Regions from separate parts of the Homo sapiens genome. Here all the other regions are linked to region 1. Evidence: fine-mapped expression QTL. A gene starts in region 1. Each other region holds a variant in brackets. All regions are shown on one strand. Distances are between the middles of the regions.

Region 1 (8,185 bases):
ATTTGGAGATAGAAATGTGGGGGTCACCTGAAGCTTGCTATTTAAAGGCACAACAGTGAATGAGATTCCTTTGGAGAAAGAATATAAAGAAGACAAGAAGATCTAGGTTGCATGTGTGAGAAATCTCAACATGCAGAAGCGAGTGAAAGAGAAAGAGCTGGTAAAAAATAAATAAATAAAAATAAATCCATTTCTGTTCTAAGTTTATTGTTGCCATTATTGCTGTTGCTATTATTTGCCACTAAACATTTGTCAGAATAGTCTGTTTATTGGGAAAATAATATGTTGATTAATCACCAATTCTTTCATCCCCCCAAATCCTACATGAATACAAATAAACAAATAAGCCTTTCAGGTCTTTAGAGAAGCATTTTAATCTGATTGAGATTTTGGATAGAAAATAGGCACATGTTTATTGCATCTTAACCTTGGGTAATTGTCTAAAGGCAGAAGAAGAAAAACAGTCAGGAGAGTTACTGTAGCATTCACAATTAAAGCCAGCAATGTGTATAAAAATGCTTCTAAGGAGTTCATATCACATTTGCTGTCACATTTCTATAACATAAGTAGGACACCAGCTGGTAGTAATGCTAATTCATCCGCCTTTCATTTACTGAGTGTCACTTCACAGATGTTGAATCTTATCCATTCCTTGTTTCTTTTTTTTTTTTTTTTTTTCAAATTCCCTAACCATCACATAAAGTTACCATTATGCCATATCCTCTAGGCAGTGGTTCTGAATCAGGGGAGACTTTGACCCCCTGAGAACATTTCACAATGTCTGGAGACATTTTTAGTTGTCACAACTGGAGATGAGGTGCTACTTGGATAAGCAGGTAGGAGACAGGGATGTTGCTAAACATCCTACAATCCCCAGGTCTCACAGAGCCCCATAATAAAGAATCATCCAGCCCAAATTTCAACGGTGCTGAGATTAAGAAACACTACCTATGAGGATAAGTTACATGATAAGTACATGAACTTTCTGGGGGCAAAGTCAATAGCTTTCACCAAATTCTCAAAGGAGTTATGACTCAAAAACTTAAGAAACACTAGCTTGAATACATATTTCATCTAGGCCATGGTAAAGAGTGACATATTAACCTACTTCACAATAGGAGTCACCTCTTTAGTTAAGAAGACATATCTCTGCCACACAAATTTCACTGTCCCTTTCCACTGTCTACTGTCATTCACGGCTAGATAAACACAGATCTTTGAAGTTCCCATTTCTAGGGCCAACAAGTACCCATCCCTCTATCAGCCAGATTAACACAACCATTAAGGTTACAGTGACTATTAGTGACTAAGCTAGAGCTTCATGCTATGTCAATTTAAAAGCTGCTTTCTTCAGACATACTCGGTTCATTTGATCAATATCCATTTATTCAACGTCTACTATGTTTAACATACTGCGTATTCCCTGATGAAAATAATCTTACAATCTAGGACTAGAGAGTAATTTAAAACTGCAAGAAGGAAGTCAGAGCATAAAAAGTGAAGGTGAGAGAAGCTGAAATGAGGATGAAGAGGGAGAACTGAACACCCGGATCACTGCATGCCATGTTTCATTTCGTATTTTTCTCCACTCAAATGCAATAGGCAGCTAACTCCTTCCTGGCTAGTTTAAACAATTCTGTGGTATCTATAGCCCAGTCCAAGTCATTTGGGATATACTAATATTCAGCCAACATTTCCTGGGCACTGCCACGCAAACTTGGGAAACGGCACTACAGGCAAGGTGAGAACAGCCAATGCAAACACTTTTTTTTTTTCTCCTTTGTCACTAGTAGTTCTAATTAGAAACGAATGTGGCGGGGGTCGGGGGTAAGTATGCACAATAAAGCTGATGTCTAAAGTACTGTTTCCAGATATTCAGCAATTTTAATCATGGTTATAATCGCCATTGCTCTTGTCAGATATTGAAAGTTTGCTGCCACTGCCTGTAAATGGAGAGAGAGCGCGCGCAAAGAACTTTAACCATTCCCCGAAGGATTAGCAACTCAGTACCGTATATTGTTAGCAGTCAAACTAAACCCCTCCGGGAAGCCTGGCCAGCAATTTTTTTTTCTTTTTTTGTTTTTTTTTTTTTTTAGGCAGGGTCTCACTCAGTCGCCCAGGATGGAGTGCAATGGCGCGATCTCGGCTTACCGCAACCTTCACCTCCCGGCCTCAAGCGATTCTCCCACCTCAGCCTCCCGAGTAGCTGGGACTACAGGCGCGGGCCACCATGCTCCACTATTTATTTTATTTTATTTTATTTTTGTGGAGACGTGGGTCTCGCTATGTACTCAGGCTGGTCTGGAACTCCTGGGCTCAAGTGATCCTCCTGCCTTGGGCTCCCAAAGCGCTGAGATTACAGGCGTGAGCCACCGCGCCCGGCCTAGCCAGCAATTTTTAATACGACTTAGGCTTGAATCTTGAACTCACTAAAAGCCCCCAGCTTGGGAAAACACCTGGGGTTTCCATGGGAGTGAGGTAAAGGGCGGCTGTGAAAGAACAAAGGCTGTGCGTCCGCGTTCAGAGCCGCTGGGTCCGCCGGGCTCGCTGGGGGCCGGGGCCGCGGTGTCCTGGGTGGCGGGGCTCCGGGAATGTGACTCAGCCACCGCGGCCCCGCGATCCGCTCCCGGGCCAGCGCCTCAGTCGGTGCCGAGGAGGGCGGCGCCGAGACGGGCGCGTCAGCCTGGGAGGAGCGGGAAAAGGGTCGCAGCGCCTGAGGCCCGGCCGCCGCCCGAGTGGATGAGCGAGCGAGCGACTTGTGAAACACGCCGCGGCCCGGTCACCAACCAGGACCGGGATCACGTGGCTCCCAGGGCTGGGTGAAGAAGCCGCCCGGACCGAGCGCGCCGGAGAGGAGGGGCGCCTGGGGACAGAAGGCGACGTCCCCTGAAGTTTGTGTCAGCCAGGGCCCGCCCCCTCGCGCTTATGTAATAGGGGCGCGCTGCCATTGGCCCGCGCGACCAGCCAGGGCGCAGGCGTGCGAGCGGGGTGGGGGCCAGAAGGAGGCAGCCGCAGAAAGGCACATGGGCGGGGCTGCGAGGAGCAGGCGGGGCGGGGGCGCCGAGGAGAGCGGCGCGGCGTGCGCGGGCACGAGGCGTAGTGGTCTCCCCTAAGGCTGAGGCGGCGGCGGGCGCGCGGCGGCGGCGGGCGTGCGAGGCTGTTGTGCTCCCGGCTCTCGTGTTTCCCCTCCTGAGCGGGTGGAGGAGGCCCAAGCGGTGCTGGGCGCGCTCCCCCTTCCTTTCCCTCCGGCGTCCTCTCCCGGCCCTCTCGCGCTGCACTGTCTCTCCGACGCAAGACTGTCCCGGCCCGGGTGAGCGGCAGCGGGGGCGGTGCTGACGCCGCGGGACGCCCGGGAAACGGGGCGGGGGCCGGCCAGCGGGGGGCGGTGGGGACCGTGGGACTCGCCGCGGGTCGCGAGGGGTCGCGGGGGGCGGCAGGGCCCGGCCCGGGGCGGGCCGCGGGAAGGGGATGAGTTCGGGCGCCTGCCAGGCCCTGCAGGTGGCCGGGTCGCAGGCCAGCCGCGGAAGCGGAGCGGTAACCTTACCCCCGGCGACAGCCGCCGGTCAGCTGCCAGAGTGTGGCGCTCCCGGTGGACGCAGGGGCCGGGTTTCGGGCAGTCTCGGCCTCCAGGAGGCGCGTCTTGGTCCAGGGTCCGTGAGGACTGGCTAGATGGGGGCTGCGTGGCCTTTGGTGGCAGGGAGGAGGAGGGGGTCTCCGAGGCGGGAGAGGCGGGTTTGGGAAGGAAGGTGCGCCAGGCTGAAGCTGGGGTCGGAGAAGTGTTGGGTGGAGACCTCACTGTGGGTGCGTTCCTCCTCTCCTCTCCCCAAAACGATGGTGTTAAAAGCTAGGGTCAGGATGTGGAGCGCTGCCTGGGCCTCTTCCTTTCCGATGGTTATGGAGAATGAGCCTACTTCCTGGACCCAAAATCCTTTTCTTCTGTTACTCATTTATGTTGGTTTTAAAAGGAGCTTTGGGGCAGAGCTTACTTGTTGCCTCCTACGAGAGCGCCTCATTTTAGAACTCGTTTCTTCCACTACTTCCCTCTTTGCAGCCCCCTCGGAAAACCACACTGAGAGTTGCATTAAAAACCAGCATGTAGGTATTTGTAAGTGACTTTTTCCCTCCAGTTTGTCGCATTTAATCAAGGAGCGGTTGTAGCTGCCTACGATTTTGTAGAAAATTGTGTTGGCTTGAGAGCAAGTCCTAAGTTGAGCTGTCCAAAAGCAGGTGGTTGGTTCGTTTGAATTTCTGCTTTCAGAAAGGAAATCGATGGGGCGTGTTGTCAGAAGTTAGGGGCCTACCTCATGCATTTAGCTTATTTTATTCCATTTCCTTTACCTGGTGTTAAGTTTTCTGTCTTCAGAATAAGAACAAGTGACTACTGTCTTTATTAAGTCTCTTCGGTCTTTTTGGTTGCTGTTTGGTGACAATGGAAAATGGGTTGAATCTATTGTGTAATGTTATATTTTAGGGAAAGTCCTAAGTGCAAAAGTTAAAAATAATTTTGTGTGTCTAATGACATTGCTTTGTACGAGTCACAACATGGAAATATCAAAATAGCTAGTAACTTCTAGAAAGCAAAGGAACTTCTGAAATTAGTGGCTTACCATTTTTGAAGATTTTTTTTAACATAAAACAAGATTTCCCACAAAATCAGTGTATTAAGATACATAAAATACATTGTGTCGAAGAGTTAAGATGTGTGAGAAGACTGGCTATTTTGTTACAAGGTCCTGATAGTAAGACATTGAGACAAAAAACCTTGCAAAACATTGGTATACATAAAGGCTGATCACGTGACTACTGTCGTCCAAATAATACATAAGTATCCAAACCTGTTTCCATGGGAATAGGTTTGTAAGCTTGCGGTAACATCGGACTTAAATACACTTTTAAAAAAAATGTGCCATTTGGCTTAGAATTAATAATTTTTTTTAAAGCAAAAATGGAAGCTTAGTCTTCAAGGACTGATAACAGCTGGTAATATTTACCATTGTTTGGTGGGAATGGGGTTCTCATATTAGGCTAGCACGCTAAACATTTTCAATTACGAAAATGTATTAGGCTCGTGTGCTACCCTAATATAAAAACCCCATATTTCCTCAGTTGAAATAGTCAGCTGACTATCCTGAAAAGCATTGACCCTCTTTTATATTTTATCTGACTTTCAGTTCATTTTTTTAATGCTAGTGGGAACTTCTCCAATCAGTGTATTTTTTTAGTTTCCTTTTTTGGGGAACAGGAGGAGCTCAGTAATTTTTATGAAATGCTTTGACCTCATATCCATTAACTAATTATGGTCCTAGTCAGAAGAAGCTAGCACCCTTCCCTGGTGAAGTTGATACAAATCCATTGTATGTTCCTGTCCTGCAATGATTTACATTCAGTTACAGTACTAGTCAAAACTATATATATATGAATTCTACTTAGGATCCAATTTTGATATATTTAAAAAGCAATTGAGACTCATGATAGACTTTATGAGCAGGTTTAACTTGTGTGGTCGAATAAAAGCCTTTAATTTAAATGGAAAAGTAAAAGTAACTTTTTTCAGTGACTTGATTTTTTTTTTTGTTTTAATCCATTTGGGTTCACGTCAGATCATCGGTAACAAAAAGTGGTATCTTTCAGCTTTGTAAAAGAACCCTCTTAACCAAGTTCATTCCCTCAAATGGGAACTAACGTCTAGAGAGCAAAGAAACTTCTGGAATTAGTGGCTTGCTGATAATCTCATTTTATAATTTGTTCAGCAATCCAGCAAGACCAACTTTTTAAAAAAATTAATAACAGTAGTTTTATGAAAACTAAGTAAGAAAACAGTTTCCACCTATTTCTGAGGTCTCCTTTAGAAGGAGTAACAGACAGCTTTTATTTCTCTTAAAGTTATAAAAATCACAATCGCAAGTCACAATGAATACTGGGAAGGGAAATTACTTTTGCAGAGTGATCAAGTAAATGATAGCGGGGGCTAAACTTTTTTAGTAAACTTGTGAAGATTACATACAGTAAAGTGCATAAATCTTGAGTGTACAATTCAATGAATTTTTATAAGTAAACACACTTGATTCAAGAACATTTTCAGGACCCCATAAGTCCCCTTCATGTCCTGTCTTCCCAGTCATTACCCATAACCCCCAAGGTGACCCCTTTCACTATAGATTAGCTTTGCCTGTTTTGAACTTTAAATAATGTATATTCCCCACAACTGGCTTCTTTCCTTTAACATTGAGATACAACCAAGTTGTTACTTGTAACAATTTTTTGTTTGTGTGTTTGTTTATTTATTTTTGAGACCAGAGTCTCACTGTCGCCCAGGCTGCAGTGCAGTGGTGCCATCACGCGTCACTGCAACCTCTGCCTCCCGGATTCAAGCAATTCTCCACCTCAGCCTCCCAAGTAGCTGGAATTACAGGTGCCTACCACCATGCCTGCCTAATTTTTTTTTTTTTTTTTTTTTTTTGTATTTTTAGTAGAGACAGGGTTTCACCATCTTGGCCAGGCTGGTCTTGAACTCCTGACCTCATGATCCACCCGCCTTGGCTTTCCAAAGTGCTGGGATTACAGGCGTGAGCCACCGCGCCTGGCCACAATTTTTTAAATGCTGGGTAGTATTCCGTTGTATAAATACTATAAAAATATGTATACAAGTTGTGCATCCGTGTTACTATTGATGGGCATTCAGATTTTTTCCAGTTTTGGAATGGGCACTCAGAACATTTTGTACATGTCTTGGTGTACATAACATTTGCATTTCTATTGGGTATATACCAAGAGTGGAATTGCTGGCTCATAGAATAAACAGCTACCAACTAGTTTTCCACAGGGTTGTGTCAATTGATACTTTTGTAGCATTTATATGTGGGAATTTTAATACCTATAAATTTTTATTTGCCAGATATTTCTATAAAACTTAAGGCTTCAATTCTAAGAACGTTCTTATGCTTTGATTACTCTGTATTAGAGTAAATAAGCCACTCTAATGCTTCACCTTCTGTTTTTAGATATGGCTCGTGGACAGCAGAAAATTCAGTCTCAGCAGAAAAATGCCAAAAAGCAAGCTGGACAAAAGAAGAAACAAGGACATGACCAAAAGGCTGCTGCCAAAGCTGCCTTAATATATACCTGCACTGTCTGTAGGGTAAGGGGAATTGAATTGAAAGATACAGCTCTCCCGTGGGCAGTTTTGGCTTGAATAGATTAAAATTTTGAAACCATGGCAAAATAGATGCTTTACATGAAATAGTAGGTTTGAGAGCTGATTATTTTAGGTATCTATTTTCATTCACCCTTTAAACAAATATTTTTTGAATGGCTCCTGTGGCCAGGCAAAAATCTCTAGGTGCTGGGAAAACAGAGTGAACAAAACAAAATTGCTTTCCTCATATAAAATAAAGATGTCTTCATAAGGGCATATAATACACTTCACTAGCACATCATATAACTCTACACTCTTAGAGCTATATAATATGCTAGTAAGTATACCTCTAGTTATATAATTGGTTTTTTCTTCACTAAATTTATAATTAGGATGTCTGTAAAACCATATAGAGTATAATCACGTTGAGAGCTTTTCCTAGAATTAATGTGTTGTATTAGATTTGAAGAACTGTAATAATAACAGCTACTTTTGAGTGCTTACCATATGCCACACATAGAGCCAGGTGTTTTACATGTATTCACCTATTTAATCCACATAACAACCCTATAAGATAAAGTACTTTTATTGTTCTCATTTTACAGAAGAGTAAACTGACTAATGGAAATTAAACAATTTGTGTGGGGTCTCCCAGCTGGTTAGTAGAAGAGCTGGAATCTGAACTCAGGCAGTTCAGCTCCAGAGTCCACCCTCTGGACCACTACTGTACTGCCTCTCAAAGAAGTACTTCTGAAATTCCAAATCAGAGCCTCTTGCCTGTTTGTTTAAGCTCATTACCCTTGAAGTTAGTGAGTGGCAGTACCAAAGGAAACCATAGTGGAGTTAGTACACTACATATACACTCAAAATAATGAAATTGAGCAGCTTGTGATTGTTTGGAAAGAGGCAGGGTGCAAATTTTAATCAACTAGTAATGAAGAAATACCTTAATCTAAATGTGGTAGAGTAGTTACATATATTTAAAAACTCAAAACCACAGACTTTTATTTCATATTTTGTGTAATTTAATGGGTTAAGAATAAATAATTG
Region 2 (8,185 bases), 550 kb before region 1:
TTATTGCCCACCATCTTTGACTTGACCAACCCCTTGGGGTCTGGTGTGGCCTTGGGAACCGCAGTGTCTAAATGCAAGCGCCACTGCCCTTAATTGAACTACTAAGGGAGAGTAAGTGCTAGGTATTGTTTAATCAGGGATCAGCCCAGTCTCTCCCTCTACCTAAGCCTGCCATGTGCCCTTACTGATGATACATTTTTATCTGATGCCCCGAATGACAGATGTTACTACTCTCGTCAAGTTTTGGGAGTAGCTGTACATTTTTATATTTTTTGCACAAAGGAAGTGACTGTAGCTCCTGGAAATTCAGTCTGGTCACCTGAAACTTTGGTAATTTTGTCTGGTCTTCTTTGAGGGATGTATGTCTAGTAATGCAGTTCCCTGTTCCTTGGCCCCCAGGACTCCTTATTGTGTGGCAGAATTGAAATAATTGCAGGAAAGAGAACATTGCTCTCCTAGCCCTGACAGCAGGCAGGTCCCTGGGATACCTTCAAGACCCACTTTGAATTCAGATGACAAGTCCTTCCAGAAAATAATCTGGGATGTTTTCCTCATTTTACTGCATACAATTTTCCCCATTGGTGTATCAAGATATTAAAAGCAATCCCTGTCTCTCTCTTTCCTCCTCCTCCTCTTCCCTGACTCTCTTCTTCCTTCCCTCCTTTTCCCCCTCTCCCTCTCTCAGTTTCTTTGTCTTCGAAGACACTGACAACTTTCTGGCATGTCGCCTAGGCTTAGGAGAGTGAATCTTTATCAAAATTTCTTCTAGCCATTGGCTTGGAAGTACTATATAAATCAGCAAGACACTTTGTTATAAAACTTTCTCATTATCAACATTCACTACTGTTCCATTTTATGAATGCTTCTTTGTCTTCCAAAAAGCATTTCGGATTAAGCAATGCTGTTATTGAAAATGTGGGCGGTTTCTGCTGGTGTGCTTGGCTGGTTGAATTATAGATGGTTGTCACGAATATCACAATGCCAGGTTCCTATAAATGAGTTAAAAATATTGATGTATGAAGTAAGTTGGGGATGGCAAGTGGAGATTCAGCATCCTTATTATCCAATTGGGCCACTGGATTTGTACTTTGTAGTAAAAGAGCTCTAAGATCTACATGTGATGCAACTCTCCAATTTAAGTAGGTTGGGATCTTTCTTATTATTGGATGCACAGATTCAAATTAAACTACAAAAAAAAAGTATTTTACACATCCTGTGTCCCAGCACTATGCTAGACACTAGAGATGAACAGATATATAAACACCAGGCCTGCTATTGAGGTGTTCATAATCCTGTGAGGGAACTCTAATCTGTAGACAGAACTCTCTTGCAATGTAATGAATACCATAGACAGGTCCGAGAGGTATGAGAGGTGCATGCCTAGAGTCAGGACACATGGGGACAGAAGACATGTGGTGGATGTGGTGAGTAAGAGCACCTGGTCTTTGATGACAGACATATAGGGTTAAATCCTGGATCTGCCATAATTCATGGGAGGAACAGATTACTGAATGAATTAATACATAGCTTTTATTGGTATTGGGATTCAAGGAAATACTGCAGTGTTATATAAAGTGCTCAAGACAGTATTTGTCACCCAGGATCAATGGTGATTTGTCATTGGAAAGTAAGCACTTGTTTCAGGCTTTATTTGGTGGGAATCCAGGCAGGATGAGTAGGAACAGTGGAGACTGGGATGTCAGCAGGAGACAGCCTATGGAGGGGGAGAGCTGGGGCCTGCTAAGAAGGGCCTGCCTTTCTGTGGAGTTGGAGCAGGAGCGGGTGGAGAGAGGGTCAAGTGCTTTAGGCAAGGCAGGCTGGGGCCAGATTACAAAGCCATTTGTAGTATTAGACTGAAGGATCAGACATGACATTGAAGACAGTGGGGATTTATTGGTATTGGTGAGCAGGAAAGTGGCATAAAGAGATGTGAGTTTAAAAATCAGGCAGTATGGTAGTTCACACTTGTAATTCCAGTGCTTTGGGAGGCTGATGCAGGAGGAATGTTTGAGGCCAGGAGTTTGAGACCAGCTGGGCAACATGGCCAGACCCCATTTCTACAAAAAATAAAAAGTTATCTGGGTGTGATAGCACACAACTGTAGTCCTAGCTACTTGGGAGGTGGGAGGCTCTAAAAAAATTGTTAAAATAGCCTCTCTGATGGTTGGGTTAGGAAATGAGTACAGTAGTGCAAACAAGAAATTATGTTCACATTTACTTCACTATATTTGTTGAAGGCCTACTGTGTCCCAGGCACTTTGCTAGGTATAAATGAAGGTAGAGTGGAGGCAAGGTTAATTAATACAGGGATAGAGAAAGGGGAAACACTATAATAAATTTTTAGGTAAAATTGATATTAAAAAAAAACCCTACCATCTAGAACTGGGGTGATGAAGAAGGCCAAGTGAAAAATTATTTCACAAATTCATGAAAAAAATGAAATATTTTTGGAACATTGGAATTCAAAATACTTCATTAGACCTGGGAATAAAAAGAATGACAGCCATTTTTCTTCTTGCTCTTCTCTACCTCCTTCTTATTCATTGGGGAAAGTCACAGAAACTAGAGATGACTGGCCCTCTATGAGTAGTTGTCTCTGCAGCCCTCAGAGGTCAGGACATGCTCTGTTTTAAGTTCCGGAGAGATAAGGACAATGGAGCGAACAGTTGGAAAGTAACACATAGCTTTACCTAGTATTCTCATGGCTTGCCATAGCACCTTGAATGTTCAGTTACTTTTCTTTTTAAAAGAGAAACTAGTACTTGACCTTAGAAAGTTGTTTTCTGTTGAAATGGAAATGTTATGAGAGGTTCTAGTGAATAATGGAAAATGTGAGGTTATTTGATGAGAGGTTGAGGACAGGATCTGAAGGCCATGGTGGGTAAACAGTAGGAGTGAGCAGCGATGTGTAAATATTGACATGGAACTCAGGAGGAAGCAAGAGGAAGAAAAAAGGATTATGGCATGAAATAGTTTTTGCTTATTGGAAAAATGTTGTTCCTAAAGAATAATAAATCTTAAAGAAAAGACAGAGACATAAGAGACTAAGAAGGGAGCCAGTATTGTCTTTGATTGTGTTCATCCTTCCAGAAGTTCTCAGCCACACCCATGTTGGAAAGGTGGTCATGGTACTGTGGCATTATTCATTGCCAGGTGAAAAAGTCAGTCAATTCCTTATGTACTGCATAGTAGAGATTCTAATAGGATAAATTTAATAATTGCAAAACAAGACATACAATGTATATCAAGCCATATTCTTACCAGAAAAATCTCATCCAGTCAGATTCTCTTGTCAGGTGCATTTGTAACTGGTGAGAACCACTCACAAACGGCAGTGCAGGTAAAGTTGCATCCCTCTTATTTTAGTTAATTCTTCGGAAATCCAATATACCTCATTAGCAGGCAAACCAGTATCTCTGTCTTGTTCTTTTTCCTCCTCTTAATTGTCCTGAAATCTCCAGGGCTTATTCC[G/A]TGCAAAGATGGCCCTTGACTTCCAAATGCATAGCATAGACTGCTGAGGTCTCATTGGTCTACCCTGCACTTGCTTTTCACTGCCACACAGTGGCGCTGTTGAACACGGGCCAGGTACAGTCTGATACTCATTGCCTATCCATTGTTGCAGGGAATCCTAGCTGGTCGTGCTGACCATTCAGGCCAAGAGAATGTGCCAGCCAGGAGAGTTTACCTATACAGTGACATCTTGGGTCTCAGGACAGCCCCAGTTGTGCTGAGTGAAGTCCTCTTAATGATCTGTCACCTCATGGAAGCTTTCTCCCAAGGTCCTTCACCAAAACAGTGAACCAGCTTTTCTGTTAAATCCTCAAAATAAAGGACCTTGAAACACTTATCTCCATAGACAATGGAGCCACTAGCGGTACATTTATACTCATCAATGAGGCCACTTCTGATCTGATTTTCTGACATTTGTCTTGATTTAAAAAAAAAAAAGGTGGGGGAAGGGAGATGGACAAAAACTTAATCTCTGGCAGGTCCCGTCTGATGACAGCTCAGCACACAGTGTGTGTTTAGGAATTGTTCTGCTTCTTATTCTCCCCACATCAGTCATGATTCCAGAACTTGAAGTGGTTCAAAGTGAGCTCATAGTAGCATTTAACCTGTTGAGAATCTCTTGTCACCACTATATGTTTTCACTGGTAAAAGAGTCATCTGATTTACTGTGTGTCCCCACATTCACAATGCATACATATTCACACAGGACATGGAAGCCAAAAGTAAATGGTTAGTCACAAAAGGTTTGTTTTCTCCTATTTTGCTGTTTACAAAGGAGTGTTATCTTATGTTGGAAAGGATTTCAGCCAAGAACAGCAGTGAGGCTGTAGGAGCAATGTTACAATGTATTTCCCTGGCTTTTTAAAACCTATTCCCTGGTTTCTGCCTGCAAGCCTTAGGATGTGAGATGCGGGCTGGAAAAGCTGCTGGAGGGTAAAGCAGTAATAGAAAAAAGAAGATATTTTGAGAGACAGGAGAAGATAGGGTGAATGGTGGAGGAAAGAGGTAAGGAAGAGTCATGAGCATGAAAATGATCTGTGTCCCAGCATTGATCATGAACCCTGATGGCTGTTGGATCCATCTTTAGGCAAAGACAGCTGTGCTGGGCGTGGTTGACAGAGCATATCTGAAACAGGCCAAATTGAACTCTTGTTTACCATGATTAAGGTGACTATATAATTGATTGTCCAAACGGGAATACTTCTGAGAGTAAAAAGGAACATTACTAATACTGAAGTTGGGGCAGCGGTATCAACTGGGACTGTTGAGGGCAAACCAGGAGTTAGAGTCATTTGTATTTTGAAGGTAGTTTCTTTAAAAATCAAGACTTTAACTGTGAACAGTGCATTATTCTGATTGCTATGTTAGCTACAAACAAAATAAGATGGTGCCACCTCAAAGAATTGACAGTCTAGTTGCAGAGATGAGACTCACACACAAAGAAATTATCAGTCACCATCCAAGGTGGTGTCTAACCAAGTACCAAATAAGTGATAGTATAGTCATAGGATGTGCTAGGAAGGGCACTGGCCTTGGAGTTAGAAGACCTGTCTGGATCGCTCTTTAGCAGAGTGACCTTGTGTAAGGTACTTAATCTCTTGGAACATCCATTTATTTTTTGACTGATTGATTCATCCATCCATTCATTCATTTATTCATTCATTCATTCATTCAATAAACATATGGACTGGCCCTGTGCCGAGTGTATCTTGGTGGTAAAGAACACAGCCTTTACAGAGAGACACCTGGGTTCAGGTTGTACCTCTGTCACTACCTGGAGACCTTGAACTTAACCCTCCTGAGCTTCAATTCCCTCATCTGTTAGATGGTGATAACACCTGCTATGGTCTGAATGTTTGCATCCCCCAAACTCATATGTTGAAATCCTAACCCCTAAGGTGATGGTATTGGGAGGTGAGACCTTTGAGAAGTGATTATGTCATGAATGGGATTAGTGCCCTTATAAAAGAGGCCCCAGAGAGACCACTGCCCCTTCCACCACATGAGGACACAGCAAGAAGTTGCCCTCTATGAAGCAGGAAACCAGCCCTCATATCAGATATCAAATCTGCTGCCACCTTCATCTTGGACTTCCCAGTCTCCAGAACTGTGAGGAATAAATTTCTGCTGTTTGTAAGTTCCCCAGTTTATGACATCTTGTTATAGCAGCACCAATAGACTAAGACAATACCCAACTTGTAGAGCTGTTGTAAGATATTGTAAATGAGAGAATAAAGTCAGATTTTGTATAGGAAACATCCAACAGTTTCCAACATACAGAAAAAGCCCAAGAAATGATAGCTAAATGATAGCTAAAATTATTATTCCAGATACTGTACTGGTTGCTGGAAATGCAAAGGAAAGCTAGGGAGAGGGCTCTACCTTGCAGGTGAAAGCAGAGAGTGGTACCTGTCGACACACCCCCCAGGGCTGTTAGGAGGGTCCAATGAGGACATAAGGTGAAAGCACTTCACAGGCTCTGACATGCTGTGCAAAGGAAAGACCTCACGGTTCTTACCAGTGGTTGGGGCATTGTCTGGATCCTTCTCTTTTCCTATTTATTAGGATGCTGTCAACTGTAAATAAGAGATAACCCAAAATATCTTAAATCATATGTTATCTCACAGAACAAGAAGTCCAGAGGTAGAGTGCTTCCAGGATTGGCTAATTCTGTGGTTTAATAATGCCATCAGGAGTCCATAATTCCACTCTGCTAATCTCAGTTCTTGGTTGACTCACCCACCTCAGAGTGATACATTGGCTGCATCAGTTCCAGGCATTTCATCCTCACCACACCACGCACTAGACGCAGAAAGAGACTATCCCTTCCTTGTGTCTTAAGATCTAAGAAGCCCTTCTTGGAACCCCACCCCTACCCTTGCAGACTGACTTGTCCTATTGGCCAAAATTGGATCCCAAGTCCCTTCCCAAGCCAGTCCATGGTAAGATAAAGTTATTGTAACTGCCTTACGCTAATCAATATCTATTCTCTGGGGACTGGGGATCTTTTCATCTTCCCTAAAAACATGACATTGTAGAGGGTGTAAAATTCCTGAACGAAATCAAGTTTTTGTTAACAGGAAAGTGAAGAGAAATGGTTGTGGGTAACCACCAGCAGTGTCATATATTGTCTCTACAGGTCCAGTTCCTAATTCTACCTTAAAAATACCTCTTAAATTCACATTGGCCTTTGTCCAGGTTCTCAATATCTCCCATCTACGCTCTTGATTCCTTCTCTCTCTTCTTATCCCACCCATCTGATCTTCCCTTCATCCACCAGTCAGCCCTTTATACAATTCAAGCCCGATTATACCATTTCTTAACTTTAAGATTCTCAAGACTCAATTCGGATGCAACCACCTCTTTGAAGGTGCCCTGGATGTTTTATTTATGTCTCTTTTATAGCCCTAATAAGAGACAGTCATGCATTTGAATTATTTGTATATTCTCTGTGCCTCCCGCTATCTTTCCTGTTCAACATGGTACCATTGGCCACATGTGGCTACTGAGCACGTGAAATTGAGCATTGAAATTCAAATTGGGATGGCTTGTAAGAATAAAATACATGTTGAATTTCAGAGATTTAGAACAAAAAAAGAGGATCGTAAAATATTTCATTGGTGACTTTTAAAATTGTTACATGTTGAAATTCCATTTTGGTTAAATAAAGTTTTCTTCTTAATTTTCAATGTGGTGACTAAAATATTTCAAATTGCATACATCATTTGACATTTGTAGCTCACATTATATTGCTGAGCACTAGATTGCTAGCTCTTGCAGAGCAGGGCTGTACCTTATTTATCCGTTATTTATCACACCAGCTTTCTTTTTCTACCTTATGGTCCGTTAGCATTGGAACCTAGTCCAAACACTTTACTTGGTGAAAATAAAGCTTAAGAAAACTCAATTTGGGGATGAAAGAGCACAAGATAATTTCATGTTATTTGACCACCACTCCTGGATTTCTGATACATAGGTTATCTTTTGTGTGTTCCAACTCATCTAAGCTTTTAAAATTTGCCAGGTTTGGAAATCACTCTTTGTTGTGGTTACTTCAGGCCACTAAGTTGTTATGGACTAATCCAAGTTGAAAAAAGAGAGAAACTAGAATTTAATTATTTTGGTTAGGTTTGTTTTTCTCTGTTAGTTTTTAATTCTTCCACTTAGATGTTCCTCAACAAATTATATTTTACTTTTTTAAGGTAGTGGTGCTGTCTCCATGACTATAACCTCTAGAATATTTTAGTTATTTTTACAGTTATTAGAAATAAAGAAGCAGATGTAAGTTATGCTTTCTATTCAACTTCACTGAATTATAGCTGGAAGTTGCATTTTTTATGGATGAATTATATATATTTTACTGTTTATTGTATTCTTAGCAAGGATCATTTAGAAGACCAAGAAAATGACCATATTATACAAAATATTTAAGAGAAAACCTGTTTCTAATGGCATAATAAAATCGGAAACTTTAAAATATATATTTAATGAGCAGAAGTAATGGAATTAAGTTTTATATTTACAGTAGCCAAAACATGCCATTGTTTGGGGGAAATAATCTTTTTCTGGAAATGCCTGATAAATTTATACTTCTAACTTGGAAATAAATAATATTCGTGGTCATAAACCATGTGCTGAAGAATACAGCAGGATTATGTGGTTATCATCTGGTCAA
Region 3 (8,185 bases), 84 kb before region 1:
GCTGCTCAAGTCACTGAAGAATGGTGGAAGTGACTGATGCTCTGTGACTTCAGAGGCTAGATCCCAAAAAGGTCAGAGCCTCCATCCACTGCTTGCATTGCTTTCCACCTCTCCTCCCCCTCCAAGCCCTCCCAGTGCTCGCTTTCCAGCCAACATGCAGCGACAAAGTCCAAACAAGTCCAAGTGGAGAGGCCACATGGGGAGGGACTGATGACCTCAGCCAACAGCCAGCATCCACCACCAGACATGTGAATGGACAAACCTTCAGAAGATTCTAGCCTGCAGTCTTCAGGGCTTTCAGCTGAGGCCCCAGACACTGTGGAGTAGAGTCAAGCCAGCCATCCTCTTGTCTCTGCTCCATAGAATTCCTCTGCCCTGATCAAATTCCTGACCCACAGAATGTGTGAGCCTAATACATGGCTGTTTTATGCCACTATGTTTGGGAATGGGGATGCGGGGGGAGGTAATTGTTATGCAACCATAGTAACCAGAGCATAGGTAGCCATTGACACCTAACTGATGAAAGACATCGAAACCAAGAAAATCAGATAATCACTTTGTAAAAATATATCAGTAGCTGTACTCTTGAGTTATGAACTCTGCAGTCTAAGAGCCAAGATAAACACCCTGCCCAAGAATTAGAAATTGCATAATTCCAGATTTCATATGTCTTTACTTGACTAATTCTCCACTACCATCCCCCTAAAGCCGGGGGTGTTCTAGCCAAGGTTGTCCAGGAACCACATAAAGGCCCCCAAACTGTAACCATAAAATCCATCCTCGATTTCCTCTCTTCCTGGGTCTCATCAATGGAAACAATGGTAGTGGTTTTTCAGAAGCCATGTGGGAAGATGGGCTATGAGTGCTATCATAGCAGATGTTAAGGTGCAGTCTCTAGACACGAACTTCCAAGAGTGTGTGCTGGCTGTCATGTCTAACATTTTTAAGTCAGCTAAAATTAGTGCATGTTTAAAAATGTTTAAAAAGTCCCCCTACCCCTCTCCCCATCCCCAGGAGTAATCACTTAACACTTGAGAGGACAGTGGCACATTCATCTGGCACAAGGCCCAGAATGAGACTGCCTGGCTTTGAATCCCAACTTTGCCACCAACTAGCTATGTGACTTTGGCTCCAGCTCTCTCATCTGTCAAATGAGGATAACTTACCTTCCAGGTTTTTGTGAGTTAAATGAGTTACTATAGATAGAGTACTTAAAGTGTCTAACACATACAAGGTCTCGGTGTGGTTAGGCTTTACTACTACTGCTGTGGCTCATACTACTATCACCATCCTCTTTATTACTAGCAGGACTTTCTGTAGCTTTGATGGGCTCAGGAAATGGCAAATGTTGGAAGAAACCCAACATTTCTTCCAGAGGTAGGGAGAGGACTCCCAGACCAGAGGGTGACCCATCTGGGTCCACTGACACTGTGGGATGGGAGGGCCCATATCACAGCTTTGCCTCAGGCTGGTCCTATCCATGCATTTAGGGGGGCTCGTGGGTTATTGAGCCCTTGGTGCATCTCTAGGTGTCACAAATCACATTTCGTAGCTTATTGCAGAAAAGTGAGAGCTAAACATGGTTCAAATATTTGATATAAGAAAAAAAATCGGCTGGGTGCAGTGGCTCACGCCTATAATCCCAGCACTTTGGGAGGCAGAGGCAGGCGGATCCCTCAAGGTCAGGAGTTCAAGATCAGCCTGGCCAACGTGGTGAAATCCCGTCTCTACTAAAAATAGAAACATTTGTTGGGTGTGGTGGCACACACCTGTAATCCCCACTACTTGGGAGGCTGAGGCAGGAGAATGGCTTGAACTCAGGAGACAGAGGTTGCAGTGAGCCAAGATCATGCCACTGTACTCCAGCCTGGACGACAAAAGTGAAACTCCATCTCAAAAAAGAAAAAAGAAAAGAAAAAAAAATCAACAAAACCTGGCATCATCCTAACAGTTTAGGAACTCTAACTAGTTGTGAGAAGAAAATGCACTTACCCAGTCCTTTTCAGGAAAATTCCTTCAGCTTTCATCTCTAGAACTCCATGAGGCTGTCCTTAAAAATACACCTAGTTCCTTCTGCTCACATTCACCATGCTTACTGGAATTAAGGATTCTTCACGCAGGCAATCAGTAAATGCTATGGAGGGAATGTGCCTGCAGCCTCCCGCAACCCACCCGCAATAGCAGCAGAGATGGAAATCTACAGTTTGGTCTTCTCAATAGGGTGGCCCTTGAGGAGCAGTCAGCCTATCCCCTCTGAATAGGTAAATTATCTGATCTTGTGAGCTGAGCATGGCTAACGACCTAGAAATTTCCTTTTTATATCAACTCAGATGCTTTGGCTACAAACAGAAAAACCTGAATAAAAGTCGCTTGAATAATAAGAAAAACTAGTTATCTCACTTAACCAGGAGAAGGAGGAAGTCCCAGGGCTGTCAGCTCTGGGACTCACAATGGTTTAAAGAGTCCAAGAGCTTTTTCATTAAAAAAACTTTTCCAACGTACACTCCTCCCCCATACTTTCTCTTACATGTCATTGGTTAGAGTTGTGTCACATGAGCATGCCAAAACCAATCCCTGGGAAGGAATTACCATGATCGTCTTAGACTCATCAGCACTCAGCTAAAGACTAGCCCAGTGTGGGGACCTGGGAGAACAGGGAGGTCAAGTATGTTGCAGTTAAGAAATTCATTTATCTTTCTTATTCCAAAAAGGCATCTTTGGTGATACATGCAGTTGGATGAGATAACATTTAATAGAATTAAATGATGATGAAGAAGCAAAGGAAACACAAGGCTACATAAAATGAACCCTGAAATATGATCAAGTATCAAAAATACACCCCATGCATCCTCTAAGTTTGCTAAGGGGAGACCACAAACATGGCTTTAGGCGTCAATTCAGGAAGGCTTTTCCAGAGGTTGCAAATGGGTGACTTGTGGGCCAAATGCAGCCCCCAGATATATTCCATTTGGGTTTTTGCAGTATTGTCTGTTTGTTATTGGTTGGCTGTCAGCCTTTAAAAAATTGGAATATTTTATATTTTTTTAAAAATATGTATTTCTGGCTTTTTTGTTTTTTTGAGAGGGACTCCCATTCTTTTGCTCAGGCTGGAGTGCAGTGGCACAATCTCTGCTCACTGCAACCTCCGCCTCCCGGGTTCAAGCAATTCTCCTGCCTCAGCCTCCCGAGTAGCTGGGATTACAGGCATGCACCACCACACCCAGCTAATTTTTTGTATTTTTAGTAGAGACAGGATTTCACCATGTTGGCCAGGCTGGTCTCAAACTCCTGACCTCAGGTGATCTGCCCACCTCGGCCCCCAAAGTGCTGGGATTACAGACAGCCATGATGCCTGACCATCTGGCTTCTCTTGTTTAAAAAAAATCAGAAGATGCAGCAGCACTAGGCCTCTTTCCCACCTGACAGGCGAAAGTAGCTGCCCCTCTAAACCTTACCTGTGCTCCCCACTTCTCCACGTGCCTTACCTGTTGCCTGCATTGTGCCCTGGGCCTTTGAGAGTGTGCCCGAGTTAGACAGCTTACAAGGTCCCTGGGATAGAAGCCAGCCAGTTCCTGACAAGCACAGATGAGCCTCACCAAGTGACCACTGTGGACTGTAACACACGCCCTCAGCTTCATCCTCACTGCAGACCCCTGGAAGAGCTCCCAGGGATTGTCCTTTATTATGGCTTTCTACACAAACCAGGGGATGGAGATGTAGGGAGTGGGCATGTGGCAGATGAGAAAGGGGTAAAATGTAAGCCTGGAAGTCATCTGCCACTCAGGGATTACTTTCCCAGAGAAAGCTTCCACAGTTGCTTCCTGTTTTGATAAGGCTGGGTCTACTGCAGAAGAGGAATCTGTCTCAGAAGACATGAGATTAAAGAGAATAAATAGGAAAGCATGCAGAATAAGACTAGGTTTGGATAACGATTCTCACTGTGAGAACAACTTGACAATCTGCCACTATGCTGAACTCTGATTTTCTACTCAACAGTTAAAGAGGTTTTGGATTTAAAGAGATGCTGCCTGCCTTCTGATTCAGCCTTTCTTGGCAGCCATATGTCTCCTGGTCCAAAAATGTCCACTGACTCCAGCAAGGGATTAAGAAATTCACACAAGAATTTTTTAGTCACGTTATTTTAAATGTGAAAGGCTTTCTCTAGAATCAGGTAAAGGGGTCCCGAGCAGATGTGTGCACAGATGGATGGGGCTTATCTGATTCCCTGTCCATCCACGCCCACACACTCCTGGCTGTCAGGAAAGGTTAGATGATGACAGTGACTCAGGAAGCCAAGAATGTGAATTATGTGAAATGAAGCCTGGATCCGCCCATGTAAGGTTACGGCTCAGCCCACCACAGCAAGCCTGAAAAGGAGA[C/T]GCCATCTTGCTTAAAAAACAAAGGAGGGGGGCTGGATTTTGTAACACTTTTGTGTCTGTGAAATAACATCCATCCAGTTTGCTGGACAGAGAAACAGAGAACGAGAGGGAGAAATGAGACCTACCTAGCAAACTTGCTTGGACCCCCTGCGGCATACATGCCAGCACACCCCGCATGCCCACTGACCCACCAGTCTTCACCCCACGGGTCTACATCAGAACGGGGAAAGGCCTCCACGGAACTGGAGTGGGAAGCCACTTACCAAGATGTCAGCTAAAGCAGTTGGATATCCACAGTCACATCATATGCTTCACTGAGCTCTTCAACAGCAGAGCAGTGAGCACAGGCGCCTCCCCACAGTGCAGCAAGTAGGGACAGCTGCTGTCCTCCTAGGCCTTGAGCAGAGGGTGGGGGGAAAGAGCTGAACTGATGCTGGCACCCAGCAGTTCAAGAAGAGGAAAGAGCAGGGGAGCTATAAGAAGAGCTGAGGCTAGGGCTGTCTGCCCAAGGTCAGGCCTCCTGCAGGCCCTAGAGTGGACCCCCAGGAAGCTCTGCCCCCTCCACCCACCCTCTTTGGTGCACGCAAGGTCCTTAGATGTATGTCTCTGAGGTTCATTTTGGCAAGAATTCACCAAAGCAGAGGTCCTTGAGGGAGAAGAAAAAAAGCCAAAAAAGCCATGGTGTGGCAAGATAGCAGAGTGAGGAAGAACTAGGGCTCCAGAGGGAGACAGCCTGGCTTTGAAAGTTGGCTCCACCTTGTGTCATCTTGGATGATGTGTTGAACCTCTCTTTGCTTCAGTTTTCCTACCTGTGAAATGGATATAATAATAGCCTATTCGAGGAATAGCAAAGGATTGCTATGGAGACAAAATGAGATAGTATGGGTAAATCTGGGCACAGTGCAGGGTACAAAGTTCTCAGTTACTGTGAGCTTCTTCCTGTTCCTAGCCTCCTCATCCCTGAAATGGACTTTAATATGCACAAAAGCATGACTGAAATTAACATATAAAACATAGAGCTTATCCCTGACTACAGTGAGTAAATGCAAGAAGTCAAAAGAGAGGATATCCCTGGCATATCTTGATAAAGTATAAAACACTATACAAATTTCAGAGTCCACTAAGAAGTAATTTTAGTAGTCCACTGAAGTAACTGCAAAGAGGCCTGATATTAATATCTTTCAGCATAGAGAAAAATAATCCAGCCAAAGTATGTTACATTCCTACCACATGCCTGTCACTACAAGGAGAAAAAGATATAATAATAATTATTAAGTTATACCTTTTGCATGCCAAGTACTGCCTACAAATAACCTTTCTTCCTTAAAATCCTTCAAGGTAGATTTTAATCTCCATTTTAAAAGTGAAGAAATTGAGACACAGAGGTTAAGCAACTTGGCCAAGTTCACACAATCAATAAGTGACTGAGTTGGGATTTGAACTTGAGTCTGTCTCATGACAATGGTAAAGATAATAGCACTGATTAAGTGTTTTCTAAATGCCAGGCAATGTGCTGACCTTTTACGTGCATTGCTTCATTTCATCTTCACACCAATGCTATGAGGCAGGTACTATTATTATGCCCACTTTACAGATAAGGAAAGATTAAGAAACCAGCCCAAAGTCTCATAGTCACATAGGGGAAGAATCAGGCATCAAGTCCCTGGTCAGGGTGACCCCAAAGCCCAGGCACTTGCCCAGTCACCACACTGCATCCTTTGTGTCCCAGCAGCAAGGGAGACATGACCGTTCTCAACGTGAAACTCTTCGTAATTTCAAGGGTCCTAAGTACACGTGGACAGCCTGGCTTCACCCTTTATGCAGAAAAGATTTTGATTTCTTTCTCTGCACTACAAATGGTTCTTAGAGAGCGTTTCCTCCTAGGAAAATGTGTTTAACATTCTCTGAAGGACTCTACTCTCAACCTCTCTTGAAAACCTAATAAACTCAAGGTCATGGAAAACATTGTCTCTAAGAACATATGGCTAAAAGAGAAAGAAGAGGCACTCAGTTAGCTTGGATTTTGAAGGGTTTTACCAAGAGAACACTGGAGTGGTTTTATTTGAAGTAATTACAAGAACTTCAAGCCTTCTAAGTGGCACAAGCCTTGCCTTTAGTGCAGATAAGCCTGTCATTTTTTAGTGCTACCAGTGGGATTCTTTTGTGGGCAGCATCTGCCTTAAGTGAAATCCTGATCCTTCAAAAGCACAACTTTCTTCAAGAGAAACAGGTGAAATAGGAATTGTCAAAACCCAGCGTTCCCTGCCCACCCTCCCCCAACTTTTCTCCTTATCAGCCCCCAACCTATGGTATTTACAAATCAAATCTCGTGTATGTGTGTGTATTTTTAGTAAAGATGGCATTTCACCGTGTTGGCCAGGCTGATCTCGAACTCCTGACCTCAGGTGATCTGCCCACCTCGGCCTCCCAAAGTGCTGGGATTACAGGTGTGAGCCACCATGCCCAGCCAAAATCACTTTTTAATTCTGCTACAAAGCATGGACAAGAAGAAAGGTGTAATTGTCCTTCAGACATGTGCTCTCTGATACAGCAATCACAAACCACAAGTGGCTATTTAAATAGAAATGAACTAAAGTTAGTTAAAATTTAAAATTCAGCTTGTCAGTCACACTAGCCACATTTCAAGGGCTTGGCAGTCCCTGTGGCTAGTGGCTATGGACAGCACAGATCTAGGATATTTCTATGATCATAGACAGTTCTTTGGGAGCAGTGCTGAGCTAGAAACTCCACTCAGGAATCTGAAAGGCCTGGAGCTTCTCCTATGGTTGCTGTTTGAGTTTCAGTTTTCCCAAAAGTAGATTTGAAGGTAAAGATTTGAGTGTGAGTAATTTATTCAAAAATTGCAGGGAATACAAGTGGGGAGGTGGCACGGGGAAGGCCAGGCAGCCAGTAAACCTACTTAAACCTGTAGGAAACTGAGAAATGGTGTAAAATACTCAACTCAGAATTATCCCATCCAAGCAGGAGTGAGCTGGGGTATTTGTACGCCAACCCTGAGGACTGCTTCTAAGGCTGTGAGTTTCCTAGTACTTCTGGTCTACCTGTGGGTAGGCAGAGATTTCAGAGATTGGGCTGGGAGTGAGGGCAGAAATTATCAATATCAGGCTCAGAGGCAGAGACTGGCAGAGGAAGTTGACCAGAGCACCCCCGCAAGTTCTGAGAGATGCAGATGCTGCATAACACCGTCTGGCTACAGAAATGCTTAAGAATCACCTTCCTCCCAGAATTTTGCCTAGAACATTATGTCCATGACCTTGATTTATGTCACTCTAAGAGGAGCAATCCAGCTCCTATGGCAGGAAAAGCTTAGGGGATGTCAAGGGAGAGGGAAGGAGAGAGCACAGAGAGAAAAGAAACTCAAGGATGTTCAGCAGGGCTGATTCTACATAGACTTAAGGGTGAATTGGTGGGGAAAACAGGGAAATGTTGTGCATCATCCTTGGTGTCTGGATTCTAGGTGTTGTGAGATGTACTGATACAGTTTGTCTGTGTCCTCACCCAAATATCATGAATTGTAGCTCCCATCTTCCCCACATGTCATGGAAGGACCCAGTGGTGGGTAATTAAATCATGGTGTGTGTGTTGGGGGAGGGGTAGTTTCCCATGCTGTTCTCATGACAGTGAATAAGTCTCATGAGATCTAATGGTTTTATCAAGGGCAGTTCCCCTCCACATGCTCTCTTGCTTGCCACCACGTAAGATGTGCCTCTGCTCCTCCTTTGCCTTCTGTCATGATTGTGAGGCTTCCCCAGCCACGAGGAACTGTGAGTCCATTAAACCTCTTT

Alleles and levels. Alleles are on the strand shown, and positions count from the first base shown. SD is a standard deviation of normalised expression in the study named. Not every link is listed here.
As copies of C replace T in region 3, the expression in tibial artery of the gene that starts at base 3,072 in region 1 goes down (small effect, 0.21 SD a copy in GTEx).

The links.
Region 2: its variant is fine-mapped to the expression of ZNF706 in nasal epithelium (TOPMed, PIP above 0.99).
Region 3: its variant is fine-mapped to the expression of ZNF706 in tibial artery (GTEx, PIP 0.98).

The regions. Positions count from the first base shown.
Region 1 is chr8:101,200,560-101,208,744 of GRCh38, reverse strand. It overlaps ZNF706 (zinc finger protein 706), which reads left to right and starts at 3,072. Exons shown (of 4, transcript NM_016096.5): 1 at 3,072-3,310; 2 at 7,002-7,138. The coding sequence starts at 7,004. RefSeq lists silencers at 2,508-2,727, 2,938-3,537.
Region 2 is chr8:101,751,848-101,760,032 of GRCh38, reverse strand. All of the region lies in intron 1 of NCALD (neurocalcin delta), which reads left to right. Among named protein-coding and RNA genes, the nearest start is that of NCALD, 35 kb to the left of the region's middle. The variant G/A (reference allele first, on the strand shown) is at 3,472.
Region 3 is chr8:101,284,267-101,292,451 of GRCh38, reverse strand. The region is part of intron 4 of LOC107984005 (a long non-coding RNA gene); the gene reads right to left. Among named protein-coding and RNA genes, the nearest start is that of LINC02844, 25 kb to the right of the region's middle. RefSeq lists an enhancer at 3,863-5,062. The variant C/T (reference allele first, on the strand shown) is at 4,380.